2 separate regions of the Homo sapiens genome follow, and region 2 is linked to region 1. Evidence: fine-mapped QTL for protein levels in blood plasma. Region 1 holds a variant in brackets. A gene starts in the other region. All regions are shown on their forward strands. Region 1 overlaps NOX4 (NADPH oxidase 4). Region 2 holds the start of SEMA4C (semaphorin 4C).

The links. A credible set is the group of variants that fine-mapping cannot tell apart. PIP is the chance, under the fine-mapping model, that this variant and not a neighbour inherited with it causes the effect. Protein levels are from antibody-based Olink assays in UK Biobank. Linkage for the fine-mapping came from a reference panel and not from the study's own genotypes, which makes the PIPs less certain.
Region 2: it holds the start of SEMA4C, and the variant in region 1 is the best candidate, but not a certain one, in a credible set for the plasma level of the SEMA4C protein (UK Biobank, PIP 0.51).

Annotation. Positions count from the first base shown.
Region 1 is chr11:89,465,845-89,470,227 of GRCh38, forward strand. All of the region lies in intron 2 of NOX4 (NADPH oxidase 4), which reads right to left. Among named protein-coding and RNA genes, the nearest start is that of NOX4, 23 kb to the right of the region's middle. The variant C/T (reference allele first, on the strand shown) is at 1,861.
Region 2 is chr2:96,868,090-96,872,472 of GRCh38, forward strand. It overlaps SEMA4C (semaphorin 4C), which reads right to left and starts at 1,991. Exons shown (of 15, transcript NM_017789.5): 1 at 1,787-1,991. LOC124908044 (collagen alpha-1(I) chain-like) reads left to right here and starts at 285. Exons shown (of 3, transcript XM_047446878.1): 1 at 285-329; 2 at 496-660; 3 at 939-3,034. The coding sequence starts at 285. The coding sequence ends at 1,946. RefSeq lists silencers at 514-1,133, 1,184-1,343, 1,664-1,763, 1,784-1,853, 1,884-1,983 and 1 more.

The sequences.
Region 1 (4,383 bases):
TGTTTAAGTTCTTTGTAGATTCTGGATATTAGCCCTTTGTCAGATGGATAGACTGCAAAAATTTTCTCCCATTCTGTAGGTTGCCTGTTCACTCTGATGGGATCTGATTAAACTAAAGAACTTCTGCACAGCAAAAGGATTAATGCCTTTATAAGAAGAGGAGGACACCAGAATACCTCCTCTCCTTCTCTCACCAGGTTAGGATACAGCAAAAAGGCAGCCATCTGTCAACAAGGAAGAGGGCCCTCATCAAACCCTAAATCTATTGACACTGTAGTCTTGCACTTCCCAAGCAACAGAAAAATGTTTGTTGTTTAAGCTGCCTAGTCTATGATATTTAGTTATACCAGCCTGAACCAAGACAATCCTATAGAAAAATATTTTAAATGCCATTTAAAGTAAGTTATTGAAGAACATAATATCTAGGTATACCAAGCACATGGTTATTTTCTTAAAATCTCAAACAGTTTCTTATCTTAAATATCCTACTTAATAAATATTAATTTTGAAATAGTTAATTGAGAGGGATACAATTTCCTTACCTATAAAACAAATATAACATAATAATCCTAGCTGTTAGGGCTTTTGTGAAAAGTAAACACAGTCTAAAAAATGCAGGCAGTATATAGAGTTAACTTATTGCCATAGGGTCACTGGATCACATCCTTTCACTAAACATTGGTCTGTACTTTTAAAGTAAGTGCTATCTGTTCCACTTATATTATTAATCGAACACATATTTATTGTAATCGGCACATATTTTGGGACACTAGGAGTTCAATAGTGAACTAAAAACATAAAATTCCCTTTCCCTTAGGCTGCTTATGTTTTAGTAGAGGAAATACATTAATCAAATAACTTGATAAGCAAATACAATTTGTAACAGTGATAAATGAGAAACAGAGTATGAATACATGTAACAGGAAATCAGATCTAAATGGGAAGATCAGCAAGCCTTCCTTGATTAATGAAAAGTATAAAGGAAACTGAGATCTGAAGAATAAAACTAGAAGTCAGCTAGAAATAAGAGGGACATCCATGCAGGGAAAAAAGCAGCATGAGAAATGATGTGTAGCAAATGAAAACATGGTGTATATGTAATAAATAAATAGTAGGCCAATATGTTTCATTTGGAAATGAAGGGTAATGGAACATAAAGCTGGAGAAGCTAATTGGGGGGAGCTCGCTGGACTTTGTAGGTTACATTAAGAATGTCTTTATCGGCCGGGCACGGTGGCTCACACCTGTAATCCCAGCACTTTGGGAGGCCAAGGCAGGCGGATCACGAGATCAGGAGATCGAGACCATGCTGGCTAACACAGTGAAACCCCATCTCTACTAAAAAAATACAAAAAAATTAGCTGGGCCTAGTGGCGGGCGCCTGTAGTCCCAGCTACTAGGGAGGCTGAGGCAGGAGAATGGTGTGAACCCGGGAGGTGGAGCTTGCAGTGAGGCCAGATCGCACCATTGCACTCCAGCCTGGGCGACAGAGCCAAACTCGTCACAAAAAAAAAAAAAAAAAAAAAAAAAAAATTTGTCTTTATCTTTTTATTTTATTTTATTAGTGCAGAGCATCTCTCTCAGTCTGCTCTGGATGCTTTAAGAAAATACCATAAACTGTGTGGCTTATAAACAACAAACATTTATTTCTCTCCATTCCGGAGTCTACAAGTTCAAGGTCAAGGCAGATTCAGTGTCTGGTTAGGGCCCACTTCCTCATAGACAGTGCCTTCTGCTAGCATCCTCACATGGTCACTAACTAGTGCTCTGAAGCCTCTTTCATAAAGGCACTAATGCCAGTCATGAGGGCTTTACCTTCATCACCTAATCACCAAGTCACCCAAAGGCTCCACTTCCCAA[C/T]ACTATTGCCTTAAGGGTGAGGATTTCAACATATGAATTTTGGGGGGACACAAATATTCAGTCCATAGCACAGAATGATTGTGTTTTAAGCCAGGAAGTGGCATGAAGAGATTAGTATTTGGCGATGATTATTCTCAATGAAGTGTGGACAACAGATGTTAAGGAAGTAATTTTGGCAATTACATTACTTTGTATAGTTAATCATCGCATCAGTAAAATTTTGTTAGTGACAAGGACTACATTTCAAGTTAATTATGTGTGTTACATATAGGAGGGATTCTGTTGTGACTAAATATTTTACTTATCAGTAAATTTATTTTGCTAAATACTAAAACATATAATTCTAAAACTGGAAATCTGAAAGGGCCTAGCTCATACTGTACCTCCCACCCACTGTCTAAACCCCTTCTCTGACAGTCCCCAACCAAAGGTAACCTACACTCTGTTTGAATTCTTCCACATAACAGGCTGTTCCACTGTTCTATTTTGTTTTCTTACACTAGGATGAAATCTGTGTCTCTGTAACTTCCACCCACAGAGCTACTCTGCATAATAATTTTCCTAAGACAGACATTCAAAAACTGAAGATAAAAGTGGTATAATTTCCTAAATCAATCTTGCTTTCTCCATGCTAAATACAATTAGTTGCTTCTACAATTGTTGATATAATTTTAAGACTCCATCATCTTTGTGCACCAATATTCAGTACATTCTTGACAAAAGGTCATTGCCCAGAGCAGTGCTGAAGACTATCGTCTCTGTTACTACGGATGCTATCTGCTAATTTTAAGATTGTGTTATCTTTTATGGAAATTATGTCACATAAAGGCTCATCTTGAGTTTCCAACATATAGGTTTTCTTCACATGAATTTCCTATTAAACAATGATCCCTTTATCCTATACTCAAAAGAAAAAAATGGGAGCGGGTGAGAGAAGGTACATAAATGCAAGAATTAACCTATTCTATTATATTGGTTGTGAATTCTGTATTCTTATATTTTTCCCTCTCATCTTTGCCTCAGCTAGAAATTTTGATTTTCATTTATTTGTTTATTTTTAGAGACAGTCTCATTCTGTCACTCAGGCTGGAGTCCAATGGTGTAATCACAGCTCACTGCAGCCTGGAGCTCCTGGGCTTAGCTGATTCTCCCACCTCAGCCTCTAGAGTAGCTGGGACTACAGGTGCATGCTACCACACCTGTCTAATTACTTTTATTTTTGTCTATTTTGCCTAGGCTGATCTTAAACTCCTGGCCTCAAGTGATCCTCCAGCCTCAGCCTCCCAAAGTGCTAGTATTACAGGAGTGAGCCACCACACAAGGCCTGAAAGCTTTACATTTATGTTTTTCACATCTTCATCCAAATTTTTGGCAAAGCTATTAAAATGTACCAAATCCTATGAAATAGCTGACTCTAGAGAGGACTTACAAACTACCTGTTTTGGCAAATTAACTTTCAAATGAACATTTTGTTCTCAACTGGAAATTTTCTCAACAAATTAAGGGAACATAAGATGATATTCTACATGTAAATATGTACACTAAACTATTGTTCAAAGGGAGTTGAAAAAGCCAGAGAGGTTAGTTTGAATAATTGGTCATTTTTCTGGGTGCTTCTTGGTGAGTCAACAATTAGGAAAACAAAATTAAAAATAACGAAAACTTAAAGTGATAAAATATTTTAAAATTCTGATTTGGCATTGGTGTTTGTCTAAAAATATGTAAATTTGTGCTCATTGTGATCAATTTTATTGACTCTTCTATCCCAAGGAAAATTTTAATCAAACCAAATGATGCCCATACAAAGCCTAATTCTTTAGTGCTTTAGAATAAAAAATCTGTAGTTCTTTCATGGCGCCTTACAAACCATCCAGTTCAACCTTCTTTTTGCCCTGTTTACACTGCTAGTTCATAAAGCTGCAAGAATGGGAACCCAAGTCTCCTCTTCATGGTCTGTGTCACTTCCCTTGCAATGCATCACTCCCCAGAACAGAGTTGCAAATTCGGACACCTTGCCTAATGCTCTTTCCGTATTTTTACACTTTCTTACTCTTTCAGTTGCTTATACTGTTACCCAATCAACAAATTTTCCTCTCATTTTATGTAAATCTTGACAAAGGCTTCTCATATTGGACTGTACATAGTTATTACCTGATGGGCTATTTTAAAATAAACCACTTTCTACTACCAAACTTCTGAAGTTGTTATTCCTTAGGTCTCGGGTGGAGTTCTGAGCCAGGATCAGCACTCATTGATTTAGAGGACAATTTGAAGTCACATAAACCTGAATATGAAGCCCCTTAACTAGCTGTGTGGTCTTAGGTAACTATGTGACTTTATCTCAGTCTCATTTTCCTCATCTGCAAAATGAAAATAATAATAATAATAATAATAATAAGATACCTACCCCAAAGGGTTATTGTATATATTAAGTGAGCATATATAGTATTTAATGCAGTGCTTGACATATAGTAAGAAGTCAACAGAAGTTATTATCATCATCCTAGTGTCCCTTGTCATCCA
Region 2 (4,383 bases), not on the chromosome of region 1:
CCTAAAAGACCACAGGTCTCCCTGGGAAGCGGGGAGGAGTTGAGTTGGCTGAAGGCTAAACAGGCTCCGGGAAGCCCTCCCTGGCCTCCAGACCCACCACTACCTCTGCGCAACAGGAAATCATTTGAGAAATAAAAAGGGGACCCCCGCCCAACATACACACTCAGGCCTAAGAGGTTTGAGTTTCTTGAAAGAACCTCAGGCAGCAGGCCTTGCAGCCACTGGGGCTCCGGACCCTGCCAACACCTAATTCTGGGAGGAAGACTCCTTAGGGCGACGAGGGCATGCGGTGGGGTAGGCGGTCGGGAAAGCCCCAAAGGGGAAACCTGGTGCGGCCGGCTGCGAGCGGAGGTCCCGGTCCCGGCCTGTCCCCTTCCCCAGCGCAGACAATAGCCCTGCAGAACCCCAAACCCCGTTCCACATCAGCAGGGCAGGAGTGTGAGAAGGGCCGGGAGCGAAGGGGCCCAGCTTCCCGAGGCCCCTTTGTTGCCCAAGAGGGAGGCAGGAAGTGGGTGGGATGGGCGTGGAAATGACCAGGGCCTCATCCTGTTCCTCGCACTGCCTCCTCCGAAACACCAGCCCTCTGGCGGAGGGGCGGTGGGGGGACCGAGCTCGGGTCGAGTCGGGGACTCCGGCGGCGCGCGCAGGCGACGGGGGGAGGTAGGGGCGGGGACGCGAGGGGGTTCCTCCCGGGCCGCTGGCAACGCGCCGCGCACGGCCGGCACCCGCTGCGCTCCCGCGACTCTGACGAACCTTCCCAACTCGGGGACTGCGCCCCAGGGACCCTGGCCTGGGCGGGCCAGCGGGATTGGCTTCCCCTGCTCCAGCCTTCCCGTGCCAGGGGCGGAGACGCAGAAGCTGGGGACCTGCTCACCCCCAAACAAAGGGTCCCCGCCAAGACCCCGTCCCGGGTCCCCCCGGGTTCTCCCCTCCCCCAGCTCCAGGGATTTGAACGCAAACAAAGCGGCGGCGCGGGGAGCGTGGCGAGCCCGGCCTGCGGACGCCCCCTGTCGGCCCAGAGCCCCGGCGCGGGAGAGCGGGGGCTGCGCCCCAGACCAGCCCCCCAAAACGCCCGCGGCCTCATCTCGGCTCCTTACCCGAGGATCGGGCCGCACCCCGTGGCGTGCTCCGAGGATCCGCCCGGCAGCGGTGCTCCCACCCGCAGCTCCCCCCAGGGCGAGGAAACGGGCAGCCGGGAGGAGGGGTTGGGGGGAGGGGTGCGGGATCCAGGCGGGGCACCCCACACCCTCGCCCACCCCGAGCGGCCAGCCGTGGACCGCGGCCCTCCCTGCAGGGCGAGCGCTCCAGCCGGGGACGGCGCGGCCCGGCTCGGCCCGGGGGCCTGGCTTTCCGGGACAACCCGCCTCCCCAGCGGAATGGGCGGGCGGGCGGGGGGCCGCGGCAGGGAAATCCGATCCCACAACATCGGCCTCCCTCCAAGCCCGCCCCAAACTTTCCATCGGGGGTGGGAGCGCCGAGGGCAGTCCAGGAGCCTGGCGAGGATCCCGGCCGCGGACCGGACCGCGCGAGGAACCCTCGCTGGCGCGCCCCTCCGGCCCCGGGGCTGCGGGGCTGCAGGTGCTGTGCGCCCCACTCCCGAGACCCTGCGAAGCAGCCGCGGGGGTCGCAGGAAGGATCCCCGCGTACAGCCGTCTCCGCCGCCGCGGCTCCCCGCGCCCCAGCCCCTGTCCCTCCCGCGTCCGGCAGCCCCTGCCCAAGCAAAGGGACAAAGCGGCGGCTCCGGGGCCCCGCGGCTCCAGCCTCACGCAAGCCCGGCCTCGCTCACCTATTGCGCGCAGCTCCAGTCCCCGGGCGCCGCCCTCGCGTTCGGCTCTGACCGCCGTCCACCCCTGCCCCCGCGTCGCCGCCTGCCCGCGCTCGCCCGCCAGCCCTCCGCGGCCTCTCTGCCACCGCCCCTCCGTCCCCGCCCGGCTCCGCGCCCCTAGGCTCGGGCTCCCCGCGCCACCACGGCGGGCGCCGGCTCTTTCTCCAGCGCGGCCGCGGCTCTCCGCCCCCTTCCCCTTGACGTCAGGCTGGGGGGGTCGAGCGGAGGCCGGGGGCGGGCCGCGAAGGCTCGCTCAGGAGGGGGCTGCGACCCGCAGCGACCTGTGGACCCGCCCGCTCTCCGCCCGGGGGCTCGGACCTCCGCCTCTCTGGGTGCCCGGACCTCAACCCCTCCGGGTGTCCAGCAGCCCCGGGGCTCGGAGTCGCGGGCTGCGCCACAGCGCCTGGAGGGAGGTGGGGCGGGGGAGGGACTCCGGGTATGGCCACGGGGGAATCACACTCACCCGATCTTTCTGAAGTGTCCCCCGAAGACTCCGGGCGGGCTGGGCTGGGGAGAGGGACTCCCGACCGTGCAGTTGCAGGAACGACCGCGGGCGAGCCACGTCGAGGCGAGTATCCAGGGGAGGCACGCTGGGGGAACCGAGGCGTCTTTTGGGGCGGACCAGAGGGGTCTGCCGTTTGGCCCCCAATTCTGCCTCTTTCTAGGCCCCGAGGACCACTGGTCCCTGCCCTCAAGTCTGGAAAGGGCTTCACCAGCCAGGAAGACCCTTCAATCAACAGAAAGGGCCTGCTCCTGCTTCTCACGCTTTGGGCAAAGCGCCTATCCCCAGAAAATGACTCCTCGTGCCACTGGAAGGCTGATTAACAAGTGGCATGAGCCCTACTGTTCAGATGAAAGGGGCTGTGGGGAGCCACGCTGCAGAACCACCGCCACCTTCAGAACCACCAGCCTCCGCCCACAGCCACTCCTAGAAGCAACTTGTAGCTCTGGCCTCATGGGCGGTGCAGCGTCTTTCCTGCCAGCTGGTCCTCTGAGCTGGGCAGGTGGTTAGAAGAGGTGGTCCTCATGGAGGACACCCCACGGGCACCTGGAGACAGATGCTACCTCCTGGCTAGGGGCAAAAGGCAGAGGTGAAGGGGCTTGACGTCCTGAGGTTTGGAGGTAACTTTAAGCCAGGGTGCAGTCCTGGAGGGGAGGAACACTTCAGGCTGCGTCAGCAGATCTGGATTATAAATCAGTCCGACAGCAGCTTTTGTTCTGGGTTAAAACTTGGCATCTGAAAAGTGGAGACCAGAAAAGTGGTGGAGATAATTGAGAAAAGCAGCCCAGTTTGGTTTCAGTAACAATCGGGTCTTTGCTGGTACACATAATGGCCCCTTCTCCCTTGCTGGCCAAAGCCACGTTTCCCAGCTCTTTTCCACTAGGAAAAAGAAAAAAAGCTGTGGCCTTGGAGATGCTGGAGATAATGACCATGGGGTGGGCAGGGAAGGCCTCCTGCTTCAGCTGACAAGGTGGGAGAAGGTGTGTCACCCTCGTGTTTAGTTTATTCCCCGTATCTATTCAAGCGGAGGGTAAACTGAGATGCAAGTGCCCTCACTTGTGTTCTGTGCTTTAGATTTTTGCAGCTTGTCTTGATGTACATTTTCTTACTTCACCCTTATGACCACCCTTTAAAAAGTAAGTAATTTGGGAGGCTGAGATGGGAGGATCACTTGACCCCAGGAGTTCAAGACCAGCCAGGGCAACATACTGAGACCCTGTCTCTACAAAAGAAATTATTATTATTATTTTTTTTTTGAGACAGAGTCTCACTCTGTCACCCAGGCGGGAGTGCAATAGCGCGATCTCGGCTCACTGCAACCTCCACCTCCTGGGTTCAAGTGATTCTCCTGCTTCAGCCTCCCAAGTAGCTGGAATTACAGGTGCCTGCCACCAGACCTGGCTAATTTTTGTATTTTTAGTAGAGACGGGGTTTCACCATGTTGACCAGGCATGCGCCACCATGCCCAGCTAATTTTTGTATTTTTAGTAGAGATGGGACTTCGCCGTTTTGGTCAGGCTGGGCTCGAACTCCTGACCTCAGGTGGTCCACCTGCTTAGGCCTCCCAAAGTGCTGGGATTAGCCACTACGCCCAGCCCCAAATTAAAAAAAAAAAAAAACTAGCGGGGCGTGGCGGGGAGGGGTGGCTCACGCCTGTAATCCCAGCACTTTGGGAGGCTGAGGCAGGCGGATCACGAGATCAGGAGATCCAGATCATCCTGGCTAACATGGTGAAACCCTGTCTTTACTAAAAATACAGAAAAATTAGCCAGGCGTGGTGGCGGGCGCCTGTAGTCCCAGCTACTCGGGAGGCTGAGACAGGAGAATGGCGTGAACCCAGGAGGCAGAGCTTGTAGTGAGCCAAGATCACTCCACTGCACTCAAGCCTGGGCAACAGAAGGAGACTCTGTCTCAAAAACAAACAAACAAACAAACAAACAAACCAAACTAGCGGGGGCGTGGTGGCATGCATCTGTAAGTCCCAGCTACTCAGGAGGCTGGAGTGGGAGGGTCGCTTGAGCCCAGGAGGTTGAGGCTGCAGTGAGCTGTGATTGTG